Regions from separate parts of the Homo sapiens genome. Here regions 1, 2 and 3 are each reported to be linked to region 4. Evidence: microRNA targets listed by miRTarBase, many of them from high-throughput screens and not tested one by one. Region 4 holds a microRNA gene; each other region holds the end of a gene's coding sequence.
The links. The annotated mature microRNA hsa-miR-6752-3p reads UCCCUGCCCCCAUACUCCCAG and lies in region 4 at 2,168-2,188, shown strand. An mRNA with a match to its seed (bases 2 to 7 or 8) in the 3' UTR can be bound and repressed. Matches are read on the target gene's strand: a 7mer-m8 pairs with bases 2 to 8, a 7mer-A1 pairs with bases 2 to 7 and ends in A, and an 8mer does both.

Region 1: miRTarBase lists HNRNPA1L2 as a target of hsa-miR-6752-3p. Seed matches in the 3' UTR shown: 7mer-m8 at 3,622-3,628.
Region 2: miRTarBase lists TMEM151B as a target of hsa-miR-6752-3p. Seed matches in the 3' UTR shown: 8mer at 385-392, 7mer-m8 at 1,430-1,436 and 7mer-m8 at 2,059-2,065.
Region 3: the mRNA of UBD is a reported target of hsa-miR-6752-3p. Seed matches in the 3' UTR shown: 7mer-m8 at 404-410.

The regions. Positions count from the first base shown.
Region 1 is chr13:52,643,116-52,647,178 of GRCh38, reverse strand. HNRNPA1L2 (heterogeneous nuclear ribonucleoprotein A1 like 2) reads right to left here. Exons shown (of 1, transcript NM_001389320.1): 1 at 3,406-4,063. The coding sequence ends at 3,724. Among named protein-coding and RNA genes, the nearest start is that of HNRNPA1L2, 2.7 kb to the right of the region's middle.
Region 2 is chr6:44,276,251-44,280,313 of GRCh38, forward strand. It overlaps TMEM151B (transmembrane protein 151B), which reads left to right. Exons shown (of 3, transcript NM_001137560.2): 3 at 1-3,194. The coding sequence ends at 277. DRC5 (dynein regulatory complex subunit 5) reads right to left here. Exons shown (of 5, transcript NM_182539.4): 5 at 2,484-4,063. The coding sequence ends at 3,931. Among named protein-coding and RNA genes, the nearest start is that of TMEM151B, 7.8 kb to the left of the region's middle.
Region 3 is chr6:29,552,199-29,556,261 of GRCh38, reverse strand. UBD (ubiquitin like modifier D) reads left to right here. Exons shown (of 2, transcript NM_006398.4): 2 at 1-747. The coding sequence ends at 382. It overlaps OR2I1 (olfactory receptor family 2 subfamily I member 1 (gene/pseudogene)), which reads right to left. Exons shown (of 2, transcript NM_001396058.1): 2 at 1-3,037. The coding sequence ends at 2,096. Among named protein-coding and RNA genes, the nearest start is that of OR2I1, 3.8 kb to the right of the region's middle.
Region 4 is chr11:67,488,128-67,492,189 of GRCh38, forward strand. MIR6752 (microRNA 6752) reads left to right here and starts at 2,118; the gene lies at 2,118-2,188. AIP (AHR interacting HSP90 co-chaperone) reads left to right here. Exons shown (of 6, transcript NM_003977.4): 3 at 1,140-1,328; 4 at 1,911-2,087; 5 at 2,189-2,330; 6 at 2,661-2,976. The coding sequence ends at 2,866. PITPNM1 (phosphatidylinositol transfer protein membrane associated 1) reads right to left here. Exons shown (of 24, transcript NM_004910.3): 24 at 3,641-4,062. The coding sequence ends at 3,906.

The DNA of each region.
Region 1 (4,063 bases), not on the chromosome of region 4:
GACCCATACCATATGTAGACAGCTGATTTTTAACAAAGGTCCAAAGGTAATTCAGTGGAGAAAAAACAGTTGAAAAGGAGAGACTTTAAAACAGACTGGATATACATGTGCCAAAAAGTGAGTTTCAGTGTGTATCTTTGCACCATGTACAACAATTCACTCAAAATGGATTATGGGGCTACAACTCCTATAAAACTTCTAGAGGAAAGAAAATCTTTGTGATCTTGGGTTAGACAAAGATTTCTTAGCACACCAAAAGCATGATCCATAAAAGAAGAAATTTGTAAATTAGACTTCACCAAAATTTAAAAGATTCTACACTATGAAAATATTTGCAATCACATCTCTGATGAAGAGCTTGCATCCAGAATATATGAAGATGTCTCAAAACTCAGAAACTGTAAGTCAATAGGGAAATAGAAATTAAAACCACAACCATATGCCACTACACACCCATTTAAACGGCTAAAAGGAGAAAGACTGACCATGTTGGCAAGGATGTAGAGCAACTGGAAGACTCATACACCACTGGTAGGAATGTAAAAAGGCACAACCATAAAATGACTTAGACCACTGCTACACAATTAGCACCCAAGAGATATGAAATAACATGTTCATGCAATGTTTGTACAAAATGTCTGTGTCTGTTTATAGCAGTTTTAATGGTTAACAGTTGAAAACTGGAAACAACCCAAATGTACATCAATAGGTGAATGGATAAACAGTAGTACAGCTGGCCAGGTGCAGTGACTCATGACTGTAATCCCACACTTTGGGAGGCGGAGGCGGGTGGATCACCTGAGATCAGGAGTTTGAGACTAGCCTGGCCAACCCTGTCTCGTCTAAAAATACAAAAAAATGTGGCACGCACCTATATTCCCAGCTACTCAGGAGGCTGAGGCAGGAGAACCATTTGAATGCAGGAGGTGGAGGTTGCAGTGAGCCAGGATCACACCACTGCACTCCAGCCTGAGCGACAGAGCGAGACTCCATCTCAAAACAAACAAAAAACAACAGCAGTATAGCCAGTATAGCCATACAATGGAATACTGCTCAGCAATAAAAGGAATGAAGTATTGCTACACACTATAACATGGATGAATCTCAAAATTATGCTAAGTGAAAAAAATCAGACAAAAATAGTACATTTTGTATGATTCCATTTATATAAAATCCTGAAAAATTTTAAAACTCATCTGTATGACAATCAGTGGTTTACTGGGTGGGGGTGGGGGCTGGAGAGCAGGGTGGAATTTCAAGAATAAAAGGGGCATGAGGAAACATTGGGGTAATAGGTATGTTCACTATCTTGATTATGGTGATGATTTTACGAGTGTATACATATGTAACACTTCAAACTGTACACTTTAAATAATGTGCATGGTTTGCTTTATGTCAACTATAGCCCTATAAAGCTATTTTATTTTATTTTATTTTTTGAGATGGAGTCTTGCTCTGTTGCCCAGGCTGGAGTACAATGGCGTGATCTCGGCTCACTGTAAGCTCTGCCTCCCGGGTTCACACCATTCTCCTGCCTCAGCCTCCTGAGTAGCTGGGACTATAGGCACCCGCCACCACACCCAGCTAATTTTTTGTATTTTTAGTAGAGATGGGGTTTCACCTTGTTAACCAGGATGGTCTCGATCTCCTGACCTCATGATCCGCCCGCCTTGGCCTCCCAAAGTGCTGGGATTACAGACGTGAGCCACCGCGCCCGGCCTAAAGCTATTTTTTTAAAACACATTTAGAGCTATAGATAAGAATTGATAGTCATCAGCATATGGATGGTGGTAAGCAACATAAGAACATGAGCACAAGGAGGCCAGGCGCAGTAGCTCACACTTGTAATCCCATCACTTTGGGATGCCAAAGCAGGAGCATCCCTTGAGCCCAGGAGCTCGAGACCAGCCTGGGCAATATGGTAAAACACTTTCTCTACAAAATACATTAGCCAGATGTGGTGGTGCATGCCTGTAGTCCACTGAGTGTACTGAGGCTGAGGTGGGAGGATTGCTTGAGCCCAGGTCGAGGTTCAGTGAGCTGTTATCATGCCACTGCACTCCAACCTGGGCAACAGAGCGAGACCCTGTCTCAAAAAAGAAAGAAAAAAAAGGCAAGGAGAATATGTAGTTTTCTCACTTAATAAATATTGAATCCCTCCTATGTATAGATATGCGAGGGACTGGGGATACTAAAATGACTGCAATCTTGGTGCTTAATAATCTAGTGTTGGAATCACGCATATCAACAGGCAGTTATTATAGTGTCATATATGTCTAAATGGGAGAGATTAAAGGGGTTCTGTGAAAGCAGTCAGAAGATTTTGAAAGCTCAGAGTAAGTAATGTCTCAGCCAAAGCCTGAAGAACATATAGGAGGTAACCAGCATGAGATAACCTGTGCTGAGCAGAGTGGGCTTGAAATCAGATCTAGCGGAGTGATTTGGAAAGTACAGCTTCAGGGGTGTTTATTTGCAAAAGCCCCTTCAAACCCTATCTAATTTGTTAATATAATTTTGTACGTATTTTTCCTAAATAAATCCCCTCCCCACTCCCACAACCCCAACAAATTGTGTAAATTTTGGCCCCACAAAACCTGGATTTGTCCTTAAGTAGGTCTTTCTTTTGGGTTACTTAGAATTCAGCTCCTTCTTATGTCTGGGGAATTCCTTGAGTCTTCCCACTGAGCCAGTCTCCCTCTATAAAAGCTGAAAATGCCAAACAACTTAAGCTGAACTTGCACATACTTTAAAATTGGTAACTGGTTAGCAACAACAAATCAAGGAAGGACCTTAGTGTATCCTCTCCAGATGCAGTAGCACATGTGTCAAGATCAAATTCCCAAAGCAGCAGATAGTGTTACAAAGCAGTGTGTCAGTGCTTGGCAACAGTGGCTACAATCTCCTCACCCGACCAGTTATGCAGTATGGTTCCAGGATTTATTCCCAGCCGTGTGGCTCAGACTGATGCTGATTCTCTAGTCCTTTTGGCCATTCTGCAAGCAGCACAATATTCTTCTAATACAATTTATCTTATGCTGAAAACCAGAATCCATCTCTGTTGCTTACGACTAAGAATCCAAACTGATAGACAATTTGGTATTTGGAAGTGGAGTGCTACAAAACAGACCTAGAATGGTGTGTAATTGGCCGGGTGGAAAAGGCAGGATGGAGGGCATTGAGACACAACTGTTTCGGGCTGGGAAACTAGTGACTCTGAGACAGGACACCAAGCTCACACCATCAAGAAATGTACTCTAAAGCTGAGCAGCCTTAGAAAGAGTCTTCTTCCCAGTGCTCATATTAGATGTGGCTGTTGAGGACAAAACACCAGAGAGCCACAGCCACCAGATGAAAAAGCAGCCTACGGATTCCACCAAAGATCTTTTTTTTTTTTAGAGACATTTATTCAGCGTCACAATCAGACTATTACATTTAGCAATCAACAGCATGGGTGCAAAAAAAAAAATCTACATTAAAACACTTTGTTGGAATGCTTTACACTTTCCACAGAACAGAAACTAAAATAACCTGTTATACAATTAGTCACAAATACAGTCCTCGAGTTTTTTGCCCATACACATGAGTATTTGTCTAAAACATGTCTTCTTTGTAGCAGCTAGGCCCTGCCACCACTGTGCTTGGCTGAGTTCACAAATCTGTTGTAACCTGTAGCTTCCCTGTCACTTCTCTGGCTCTCCTCTCCTGCTAAGCTTTGTTTCCTAATTAAAATCTTCTGCCACTGCCATAGCTACTGCTGCTGCTGGAAACGCCATAGCCACCTTGGTTTTGTGGTTTTGCAAAGTATTGGCCTCCACCGCCATAGGGGCCAGAGCTTCTGCCTCCAAAATTTCCTCCCTTCATGGGTCCAAAATTTGAAGACTGATTGTTGTAATTGCCAAAATCATTGTAGCTTCCACCACCTCCAAAATTGCTTCCATCATTACCAAATCCATTATAGCCATCCCCACTGCCACCATATCCACCACCACCACAGCTGCCACCAAAGCCACCACGACCACTGAAGTTTCCTCCACGACCAAAGTTGTCATTCCCACCGAAACCA
Region 2 (4,063 bases), not on the chromosome of region 4:
GCTGGGCCGTCTCTACGGCTCCCGGCGCAGCTGCCTGTGGCGCAGCCGCAGCGGGAGCGTCAACGAGGCCAGCTGCCCCACGGAGCAGACGCGGCTGTCCAGCCAGGCCAGCATGGGGGACGACGAGGACGACGACGAGGAGGAGGCCGGGCCGCCGCCGCCCTACCACGACGCCCTCTACTTTCCGGTCCTCATCGTCCACCGGCAGGAGGGGTGTCTGGGCCACAGCCACCGGCCGCTGCACCGCCACGGCTCCTGCGTAGAGACCTCACTGTGACCTCCGGCCCCGGAGTGGCCCGCGCCGTCCTCCCGCCTGCCCCTCGCCGGACTGTGCTCCCTCTGCGACGCAGGGCGAGTCACCACGGTGACTGAGGCCGCGCGGGGGGCAGGGAAAGGGAGGTGAGGGCCGCAAGACAGGCCCGGATGGGGCCGAGACCCCCGCTGTCCCTGTACATAAAGAGACCGATGGGTGGGAGGGGGTCGGCTGCTCCCCGAGATCCCCCTGGCAGAGTCATTCTTCCAGCCCCAACCCTGAGTTCCTAAAGGGACACCTCCCTCCTGTCCAGCCCTTCAACAGATCTTCTGTTAGATGACAACCGTGCCGTGGGCCCCGCGTTGGGCCTTGTCTGAAGGGAGAGGCCCTGGCATGCGGATGGGAGATTTAGAGGCTGTGGAGAAGGGAACTTGGGGCTTTCCTTCCTTCGTGGCCTCACTCCCCTGGGGCCTCTCTCTATGGAGGGGGCAATGGTTTGGTGACCAGCAGGCTGGATTCCAACTAGCTAATGCATTCAGCAGGTCTGAGGCTGGGGCCAGGTGTCAGCCCTAGGCCTCCATCCAACACCGTGGAAATGTTGCTGCCCTCTTCTTGGCGCTGACCCCAAGATTGGGGTTTCCTTTCTGCCGCTCCCTCCACTGTTGTTTATCTAACTGGGCCCCCACTCCAGGTCCAGAGGGACTGTGCTCACTGCACAGACATCACTCACCTTCCGCTCCCCAGTCCTGCAGAGCTGTTGCCAGGGTGCAGTGGGGAGGGGAGTGAAATGTGGAGGACTGTGTACCTCAGTCCTCTCTCTAAACTCCTCAGCCTCCCAACAGGGGCCTCCTCACCTGGGTTCTGAGTGTATACCCCTTTTAGAGAGTGAGATGCCACCCGGGCAGCACTCGTTAAAGCTGGCCAGCACGAGTGACTAAGGGGAGAGAGCATGACATAGACCTGGGTGGCAACGGGGACCTCTGGAAGCAGGTGGGAGTAAGAGAGGAGAGGGCAGTGGAGGGTAGAGGAAAAGGACCTCCAGAGGTGGGGTGTCTGTGGGGGCGGCCTTTGCCTCCCTAAACCTGTGCGGAGGAGTGGAGTGTGCTTGTCGCTCAAACACATCTCTGGGGGACTGAGGACGTTGTCACAAGCCCCAACTGGAGAAATAATTCCAATGGCAGGGTCAGAGGCAAGCATTCTCTAAATCTTGCCCAACCCTTCCATCCTTCCCTATCCTATGAGCTGAAGCCCTGCTGTGTGTCGCAGGGTCTTCAAAGGGGCATCCTGCCACCACCCCAGGGCGCTGGCCCCACGTCCTGTTCCCCTAAAGCTCTGACACCGCCTTCTCTCCGTGTGCTCCCCCCACCACCTCCACCCTGATGTGCTTCAGTGTGCATGTCTGTGAACAGCCCTCCTGCCCTGCCAACTCCCCTGGCTAAAGTCTCCCCAGCAGATTTAGCACCCAGGGATTGAGCTCACATTTCAGGCTAGAGAGGATAACCCTTGGGCCACCCACATCTCTCACCCCTGATGCTTCTTACTTCGCCTGAGCCATCAGAACTCCTCCTTACCCTCCTTCAGCCCCTCTCATCTTCCTTCAGCCCAGCCAGGCCTGCACCACCAACTGTGTGGCCTCCACCTATGCAACATCGCCTCTGGCTCCCCTTCCCTTCTTCCTAGCGGGGAGTGCGAGGGGCCCAAATTGTGGGGATACCATGGCCCATGGCTTCTAAAGGGTTTAGCTTTACTTTCAGGTAGAGATGGCTGAGTGAGGAGGGAGAAGAGGCTAGAGAGAGGGAGGCTTGGGCAGGGGAAACAGCTGCCCACCAGGTTTTCCTGGACAGCAGTGCCCACCTGCCTACTAGCACTGAACCTGCCTGGACCCTGAGTCTGTGCTCCTTGGGGGCCTGGCGTTTGGAGCACCCTTCTTTCCTCTGAATGGACATCTGTGAGGTACAGGTGGTGAGCTGCAGCCTCAGGCTCCATTTCTTAGCCAGCTGGCACCTGGATGTCATGCTTTGTGTGGGGACAGCCTGGCCACCTCAGGGCTCCAAGGAAGGAGGAACGTGGCTCCTCCTCCCTCAGGCCTGTTCCTGAGACAGAGCCTGGTCTCACAAGAGGGGAAGGGGGACCTCTATTATTATTTTTGCCTGTATTGACCATTTCTGCCTAGGTCGTCTCAGACAGCCTCATCTCCCACACATGCACAGACTTAGAGAGAAACCAATTCTTTGGTCTATTTTCTTGGTAGCTTTACTGATTGCCAGGGAAAATGAAAACCAGAAAATTAATTAATCTCTAAAATTAAACTTTACACTGAATGTTCTTGTTTCTCTAATTAGAACTTCTGCTAGCAGCTGTGGCTATACACACACACACACACACACACACCCTCACACCTACACGTTTGCACTCCGGAACTGTCAGAGGGTGTCAGGCACAGACAGACTCTAGGTTGCCTAGACAGGCACACACATGCAGTCACTCCCAAGCCCCCTTTGGTGCTCTGCTCAGCGCCTGCTTAGCGGAAGGAGTCCCTGGAGAGCAGGCACTCCTGGACTGGGGTTGTAGCCCATGACCTGCCCTTTGGGGACACAGTTCTGGAGGCTCTGGGCCAATGAATCAGCCCAAGGAGGATGGGCAATGGCGCTCAGCCTGAATCAGTCAGCTAGGTCTCTTGTGGCCCTGGGGGCTGATGTGATTCCTGTAGGTGTGGCCCCAGGGTGGACAGCTACAGAGTGATGGGGGACTCATGTAGGGCACCTGGAAGGCTCCATGTGTCCTGGGGACAAGGGCTTGTGGGGTGGGCTGGGCCTGGCTGGGGAGAAGACAGGTCTCTGTCAATTGGGTGCATCACACTGTGGCCTTTTTGTCGTGGATTTAAGCGCAAAGATTGTACAAATCAAACTGGTGGATAATAAAGTCGTGGATGACTCACTGACTTCCTGTCCCAGTGTGGCACTTCTTTCCCTCCCTCCCAGGGAAGCTCTCTGGGGTGGGTGGCAGGGATTGTGTCATCCTTCCCTGGAAGTTGTCATCTACAGTTGCCTCCCCAGAGGAGTCCACTGGGTCTGAGCCCCTGGTGTCAGCTCATTGTCCCCTTCCCAGGTTGGGAGTTGGGGAACTAGGGGATGGCGTGGCCTGTAGAACTGGATCACTTAAAGCAGAGTCAAGCAACAGGGAAATGCATCTACAGGGATGAGGGTGGCAGAGAGAGCCAGGCATAGCCCTGCTGTAGCCAGAGGGTGTGTGTGTGTGTGTGTGTGTGTGTGTGTGTGTGTGTGTGTGTGTGTTTGAAGATCAAGGATCTGTTTGGTAGAGAAGAAAATGGTGGGGAGTCAGGGAGGCAGGCAGCCCCAACGGGAGAATCTGGCAGGCACAGTCCCTCAGACACCTCTCTGACTTCCCTGTTCCTGAAAGAAGTTGGTCATTTGTGGGTGTCCAGTAATATCCTTTCCCTGGGCACAAAGGCTGGGTCCCTACTGCATACCCTTTCTTCCCCCATGCCAGGCTCCCTTCCCTGCCTCATGTCTCCATCCATACAACCCTTGATCACTCCAAGGTTATTCACAGTCCCCCTCCCCGCTCCCTCTGAACCAGTGTGATACTCTGCAGCAGGCATGGCAGGGGTATGAAATGAGGGATGGGGCTGGGGCCATGATCCAAGTCAGGTCATTTTATCCCACAGAGTTCTCAGGGCCATTGGCAGTTATGGTTGACATGAAGTGGCTGGGATTCAGGGCCCGCTGGCGGGCTGCTTCTCGGTTTGCGTAGAGGGCCTGGCCAATGAGGTACTCGCTTTCCTGGGCC
Region 3 (4,063 bases), not on the chromosome of region 4:
TAAGACCAAGGTTCCTGTGCAGGACCAGGTTCTTTTGCTGGGCTCCAAGATCTTAAAGCCACGGAGAAGCCTCTCATCTTATGGCATTGACAAAGAGAAGACCATCCACCTTACCCTGAAAGTGGTGAAGCCCAGTGATGAGGAGCTGCCCTTGTTTCTTGTGGAGTCAGGTGATGAGGCAAAGAGGCACCTCCTCCAGGTGCGAAGGTCCAGCTCAGTGGCACAAGTGAAAGCAATGATCGAGACTAAGACGGGTATAATCCCTGAGACCCAGATTGTGACTTGCAATGGAAAGAGACTGGAAGATGGGAAGATGATGGCAGATTACGGCATCAGAAAGGGCAACTTACTCTTCCTGGCATGTTATTGTATTGGAGGGTGACCACCCTGGGCATGGGGTGTTGGCAGGGGTCAAAAAGCTTATTTCTTTTAATCTCTTACTCAACGAACACATCTTCTGATGATTTCCCAAAATTAATGAGAATGAGATGAGTAGAGTAAGATTTGGGTGGGATGGGTAGGATGAAGTATATTGCCCAACTCTATGTTTCTTTGATTCTAACACAATTAATTAAGTGACATGATTTTTACTAATGTATTACTGAGACTAGTAAATAAATTTTTAAGGCAAAATAGAGCATTCAAAGCCAGCTTGGAATTTAATTCTGTCTTGATACCTTGTTATTTATGCAAAAACTCCTATCTCCTTTCCTTTATGACAAGAGAGTAAGTTTTAGGTTGGGATCCATGTTCTACTGATTTCTGTATTTCTGTCTTTGTTAAGTCCAGTGCTTTATTTATATCACTCAATAATGGTTGAACCAAATTGAATTTCTACTTATAGAGCATAGTGAAATGATATTTTATAAAATGAATTAGTTGCTCTGACATGATCACAATCAAATTACTAAACATTTTAGAAACTAAATTAAACTCCTTCCCCCCTCTTCTCCTTTAAAGCTATTTGTATGAAATGAAGTCTGGCACCATGCCCCCTTTTATTCTCTATGTCTCACACCCAACTAAAATAGTTATTATTTCTGGGGATGATGGTGGGCAAGGAAAGGTATTTTCCACAGGGATCTAGCAATTCTGTTTAACTAGTGGGGATTCCTAGGGGTAGATGGACATTGGGAGCGAACAAACTTTCTAAAGCTGGGGGACTGTGGACCACCCTCTCTCCTACCTGCCTTAGGGTCTAGCAGGTCTTCTCCAGGATGAGGGCGCCAGTCTGGGTGAGGGTGGGTGAGGAGCTGGCTTCTGGGTTGACCTCAATATTCTGCTCAGGTTCTGCTGATTGAGCATTTTCCTCTCTTCTTTTTTTCATGAGGAGATCCCTGTTCCTGTCTTGAGAACTTGAGTCCCTTCCTCCATCTTCCTCCCTCCATTTACTCCTCTCTCTGACTCTCTCTCTTGCTCTCTCTCTCATGACTCACTACTGATCACCTGTGAGTTTTTTTCACGGGCTGAGACGTGCCCGCCTTCTTCCACACTCATCCTAGTTCCTTGTTTCTTTAAAACTTGCTCAAGAACCAACTCCTGCAGGGGGGTTTCCAGTCTTAACCCCACTCAGCAAAATTCACCACCATTTATGGGCTTTCCTCATCACATTTATGGGTGAAATGCCCCGGGGAGGGCACTGGTCATCTGGCCAGGTCTGCACTAAGTTGGACTGATTTCTGAGAATAGAGTCCATGGTCGCTTTTTCTGGATGTACCCTCTCCTGCAGGGTAGGGACTATGATTTTCTTGTCAACTTGAGACTTCTGATTGCAGAGACCAAGAGGTCTTCCATGGTCTTCCATCAGATAGGGAGGAAGCTAAAGGCGAGCATCACGTCCATCATTTTCCCTGCGCGTGGAGTTGTGAGGGGTAGGTTTTCCTTCCCTAAACCTGAGTATATAGAGGATTTAGGGATTTTCCCTCAAGAACTAAACATTTCCTCACGGGAGGAAAACATATCCCCCATTGGACTCCTTAGGACAAATCTTGCAGATTATCATACAAAAATGAACAGCCTGAAGTCTAAACTGACTCACTAAGGGGTATTTCCATCCTTGGGTTCTGGCTTAATACTTTCTCCCCTCCCCAACTACTCACTGCCCAGCCTGGCCTCTCCCCAGACTCCGCAGCAGCCTCCTCGCTGCCCCCTTCACTTTCTTATTCCTGAGGGTGTAGATGAGCGGGTTGAGAGCAGGTGTGACCACGGTGTAGAAGAGCGATACGAACTTGCCCCGTGCCTGGTTGTAGCGCTGCGCGGGCTGCAGGTAGGTGTAGATGGCCGAGCCGTAGAACAGGCAGACGGCTGTCAGGTGGGACCCACACGTGCCCACCGCCCTCCTCCGGCCTCCGCTGAACCGCATGCAACAGACAGCTCGGGCCACGGCACCGTAGGAGGCCAGGATGACGGCAAACGGCAGCAGCAGGATGACCACGCGGGCGGCGAACATCTGGTTCTCGGTAGTGTCTCCGTCGCCTCCGCAGGCCAGCTTGAGCAACGCCGGCAGCTCACAGATGAAGTGGTCCAGCAGGCGGGGCGCGCACAGCGGCCGCTCAGCCAGGAGCGCGGTTTGCGCAACCGAGTTGGTGAGGCCGCTTAGCCAGGAGGCGCTGGCCAGCGTGCGACATAGGCGCGGGGAGACGAGCCCCGCATAGCGCAGCGGGCGGCACACTGCGGCCGCGCGGTCCAGAGCCATCACCGCCAGGAGGACGCATTCGGCGGAACCCAGAGCCAGCGATGCGCACAGCTGGGCCGTGCAGTGGCTGCGCGGCAGCCAGAGCGCTGGTCCGCGCAGGTTGGCCAGCAGCGGCGGCACCACGCTAGTAGTGAAGCCCGCGTCTACCAAGGCCAGGTGGCAGAGGAAGTAGTACATGGGCGTGTGCAGGCGCGGGTCGCGCACCGCCAGCAGCACCAGCGCCGAGTTGCCCGTCAAGGTCAGGAGGTAGCACAGGAGGACAAGGGCGAAGAGGACCGGCTGCAGGGAAGGCCAGTCGGAGAAACCCAGCAGGAGAAAGCGCTCCTCTGCGCTGTAGTTGGCCTAAAGGAGGAAAACTCCCAGAATGTTTGGAAGGTCGAAATAAAAAAGGGTGACTACCCCTTATAAGCAAAGGGAAAACCTTGGAGTGTGGGGCTGGGCTGGGAGAAGGAATGGAATCATATACAAGGTCAGTTTGTGGATTGTAATCCCATTTACAGATGAGATTACTTAAAAATAAACTCCCTAAGAATAAGAGCAACACTCCAAGCTTGGCCTGGCCAACACTCGGTAGGCAGAATGATCACCTCCGTTGTTTCAGGTACTCTGTGTTTATTTATGCAACAGTTCATGTAAAATGGAGACGAGGCCAGAAGAATCCTTGAGCAGACAGAGCCAGTTGGGCCTCCTAAGTGACCTTAACCTTGCTTGATTTGCAAGCATGTCTGAAACTTTATTTGTGGTATTTCTTGTAAATGCCTATGTTAAAGAAACACAGAACTTAAGCTCAACCAATCAGAAGCAGCCAACAAAAACGTAATTAGTAACTAGGACTTCCTCATGGGATAGACCAAATAAGGCAACTGTATAACTGTGTAACTGTATAACTGTAACCAATGAAATATTATCTTTGCTTTTATCTATTTGTCCTAAAAAGCCTCCTCCTCATGTTCTCTCTGGGGAGCTCCCTAGCCACTTCTGGATCACTGCTCAAATAAACTCTTAAATATTTTATTGGGCCTTAGTTTACTTTCTAACACAACCCATTATACGGCTGATTACTGATTTTTAATTTGTTGTGAATAGAGACTACTCCCAACGTCCATGCCCCTCCCACTGAGGGGAGATCAGCACACGTATACTAGCCTTTAAATCAGGAATAAGTTGGGTAGAAAAAAAGAACACTTTCTGGTAGACTAGAATATCAGGACATCTTGGTTTTACCTACATAGCTCCCTTTAGCCAGTTATATGATATGGGGAAATCTTCATTTCCCTCTGTCTCAATTTTTTCATATGTAAATCAAGGAGTTTGAACTAGATGTCATCTAAGTTTCCTGTCCCAAATCCTTGGCTTTACTATCAAATA
Region 4 (4,062 bases):
AGCCCTCCCTGACTGCTAGTGGTTGGCTCAACTCCCATGTTTGGGTCCTCCAACCCTCATGCCCTGCATGGCCAGGATCTGCTCTTCTGCCTTGTCCTAGGCTATTGCAGAGCAGGGATCTGGCCTGTTTACTTCTAGCTTTGGGATGCCCAGCGCGAGCCAGTCCAGAGCCAAGACTCAGGAAATGCCCGCTGATGGCAGCCCGGCAGTCAGCCCCTGTCCAGACAACAGGGCAGTGGGAGGAGTGGGGAGGACCCGGGTAGGAGGAATCTGGTTATCTGGTTCCCACCAGCCTAGCAGCTTTGCCAAGCAAGAGATTAGAGGCTAGGTCCCCTATGCCTGTCTCCCTGTGGGGTTTTTTTTTTTTTGACTAAGTCTCACTCTGTTGCCCAGGCTGGAGTGCAGTGGCGTGATCTTGGCTCACTGCAACCACCATCTCCTGGGTTCAGCTGATTCTCTGCCTTAGCTGCCTGAGTAGCTGGGATTACAGGCACCTGCCATCGTGCCCGGCTCATTTTTGTATTTTAGCAGAGACGCGGTTTCACCATGTTGGTCAGGCTGGTCTTGAACTCCTGACCTCAGGTGATCCGCCCGCCTTGGCCTCCCGAAGTGCTAGGATTACAGGCGTGAGCCACCACATCCGGCCTCCCTGAGGGTTTTGAAGTGGCTGGCCTGGGCCCAGCTCTGAGGTAGGCCCTCAGTGGGGTGTGGGTGGGGCAGAAGGAGGAGCTGCTGGGAACAGAATGTGGGGGGCCCCAGTTCTTTGCATAGTCCAGCAAAGGGCCTTATCCTCTGGAGGGAGAGGAGGTAAGAATTCTACTGGGCCTGTAAGGACCAGGGAGACAGGGGTTGATGGTAGGCATGTGTCTGTGGTGGGGGTGAGGAGGGGGTTAGGTGCTCTGTTTGGTGGCCAGAGAATGTGGCAGAAGCTGGGGCTTCACCAGGAGAGAGGGCTGAGCGACTGGAGGAGTCCTGAATTAAAAGCCTCCTGTGCTTAAACGGAGTAGGGTCCCAGTTGTCACTCTCTGGGCCTTGGTGTTTGTTCTCAGATGGTGGTGGGGAAGGGGGCTGGGCCTTGTGGACCCGGTGACCAGCCAGCCCACGGTGACAGAGCCCCCGGCGCCCTTGCCTTCCCGCAGCATGTGGTCCTGTACCCGCTGGTGGCCAAGAGTCTCCGCAACATCGCGGTGGGCAAGGACCCCCTGGAGGGCCAGCGGCACTGCTGCGGTGTTGCACAGATGCGTGAACACAGCTCCCTGGGCCATGCTGACCTGGACGCCCTGCAGCAGAACCCCCAGCCCCTCATCTTCCACATGGAGATGCTGAAGGTGAGGGGCCACCGCGCCTGGTCTCACCAGGCCCCCACTGCCCAGCCTCAGGGCGGCGCTGGCCTGTCCACCCAGGGGTGGTGGGATCCGCAGGTGGACTGCTGGGGGAGCGGACAGAGACAAGAAAACCTGTGCAGGACCCTTGGCAGTACCCTGGGTCTCCTTTCCTCCTCCTTCACATCTCAAATGTCACCTCCTCCAGGAAACCGGCCCTGCCCACCCGGTCTCCTCATTCTCTGTCTCGCAGCAGCTCATTTCCTTTATAGCCTCTGCCGCACCTTGAAGTCCCTTGGAATTCATGGATTTCCTTGTCCATTTAGGGAACCTGCCATGCAGCATGATCTCTGCGAGGGCAGGGCTTTTCACCGTCTTGTTCACTGTTCTATTCTTAGCACTTGGCACAGTGCTGGGCACACAGGAGATGTGACATCGATGTTTGATGCTTTTTGAGTGACAAGTAGCTCTGCTGCTGGTGTGTGATGTCTGGGGGCCCAGCCAGCCCAGATGTGGGTCAGGTCTGCTGCTGACGGACGCAGCTGTGGTGTCCCCGAGCCCCGCTGTGATATGCCCCATGCCCTGCAGGTGGAGAGCCCTGGCACGTACCAGCAGGACCCATGGGCCATGACAGACGAAGAGAAGGCAAAGGCAGTGCCACTTATCCACCAGGAGGGCAACCGGTTGTACCGCGAGGGGCATGTGAAGGAGGCTGCTGCCAAGTACTACGATGCCATTGCCTGCCTCAAGAACCTGCAGATGAAGGTACTGCCTGGAGGCTGAGGGGGAGGATGGATGGAGGGGGGTGTGGAGCCAGGGGGCCCAGGTCTACAGCTTCTCCCCGCTCCCTGCCCCCATACTCCCAGGAACAGCCTGGGTCCCCTGAATGGATCCAGCTGGACCAGCAGATCACGCCGCTGCTGCTCAACTACTGCCAGTGCAAGCTGGTGGTCGAGGAGTACTACGAGGTGCTGGACCACTGCTCTTCCATCCTCAACAAGTACGACGGTGAGCACCGGGCCCTGGGCTGCCGGGGGCTGCGAGTGGTCAGAGAGTGGCCTTTCTCCTGTCACTGCTGGGGTCAAGACCTAGCCTTTCACAACCCCCATTCTGAGCTCCCACGGGGGCCTGACTAAATGCCTCTACTCGGCAGGGCTGTGGGCCCCATTGTGCCAATGAAGCATGAATGGTGTATTGGGGGTGGGGTGGCATCCTCAGGTCAGGGAGGGCTCTCTCTCCCCTGTGGGCCCATGGTGCCAGGAGACATGAGGGCAGGCAGCTGGCCAGGATCCCCCCTCATGCCCTTGCATGCCCACTGCCCACTGGCCTCCCCTGCAGACAACGTCAAGGCCTACTTCAAGCGGGGCAAGGCCCACGCGGCCGTGTGGAATGCCCAGGAGGCCCAGGCTGACTTTGCCAAAGTGCTGGAGCTGGACCCAGCCCTGGCGCCTGTGGTGAGCCGAGAGCTGCGGGCCCTGGAGGCACGGATCCGGCAGAAGGACGAAGAGGACAAAGCCCGGTTCCGGGGGATCTTCTCCCATTGACAGGAGCACTTGGCCCTGCCTTACCTGCCAAGCCCACTGCTGCAGCTGCCAGCCCCCCTGCCCGTGCTGCGTCATGCTTCTGTGTATATAAAGGCCTTTATTTATCTCTCTCTGAGTCTGCTGAGCTGCTCCACTGGGAGAGCCGGGTCATCACCTGGCATTCCTGGTACTTGGGTGGCTGTTGGGAGGCAAAGAATCAGGGTTCAAATCCTAGCCCCTCCACCCACCAGCTCTGAGGCTCTGGTGTCCCTGTTAGAGAAATTACGATGAGCTCTTTCACCAAGGAAGTGTCTCTCGCTGGCCAGGGCTGGGGCGCCCCAGGAGCCCACAGTCTTAAGGGGGAGATGAAGTGGGTACAAGCTAGGTAGCTGGGCACCTGAGGGAGGTAGTCTCCTGGTGCTGCCCTCCCACTCCAGCCTCGGATCCCATGGTCTCCTGGCCTCGGTGTCTGGGGGCAGGGTTTCCATGAGAAGCTACGCTGGGGCTGAGGTGAGCCGGGTTGGGCTGGGGTGGGCTGACTGTCCAGAAAGAGGAGAGGGCCGAGCGCTTCGTGAGACCTTTTGAGGCCCAGGCCCCCATCCTGACCTGCCTGTGACATGGATGGCCCTGGGCGTGGGTTTCGTGCGACCTTTTGAGGCCCAGGCCCCCATCCTGACCCTGCCTGTGAGCTGGATGGCCCTGGGTGTGTGTTGGCCTCTCTGTGCACATCAGTGTCCCCTGTTGAACTGGAAACTGGGCTGGCTGCCCTGTGATGCCAGGCATGGGGTGAGTGGGTGGGGTGCAGGTGGCGTTTATTTTCATGGATTTATACACACTGGAAAAGCCTCTGCGCCCATGCCCACGCCCTCCTCCCTCCCCCCGGCGCTGGGTCCCCTCATATGAAAGGGAAGTAACACCGAGGAGCACACGGAGATATAGGGTGTGGGGCTGGGGGGGCCAGCGCTGGGGCCAAAAGTCTGGGTCCCCAGCCTCCCACACGCAGCCCCTCGGGCCCCTTGGGTGTGTCAATAAATAACCCAGGTCCAGGCTGGTGTGGGCCTCACTCCTCGCTGTCCAGCTTCAGGCTGATGCTCCGTGCTTTGCCCCGTGCCAGGGTGGTGGGTGGTGTTCCCGGGCCCTCACGCTCCGCCTGGCTGGGGCCCCTCGAGCGAAGCAGCTGGCTCTGTTTGCGCAGGAAGTCCACGGGGGCAGCCACA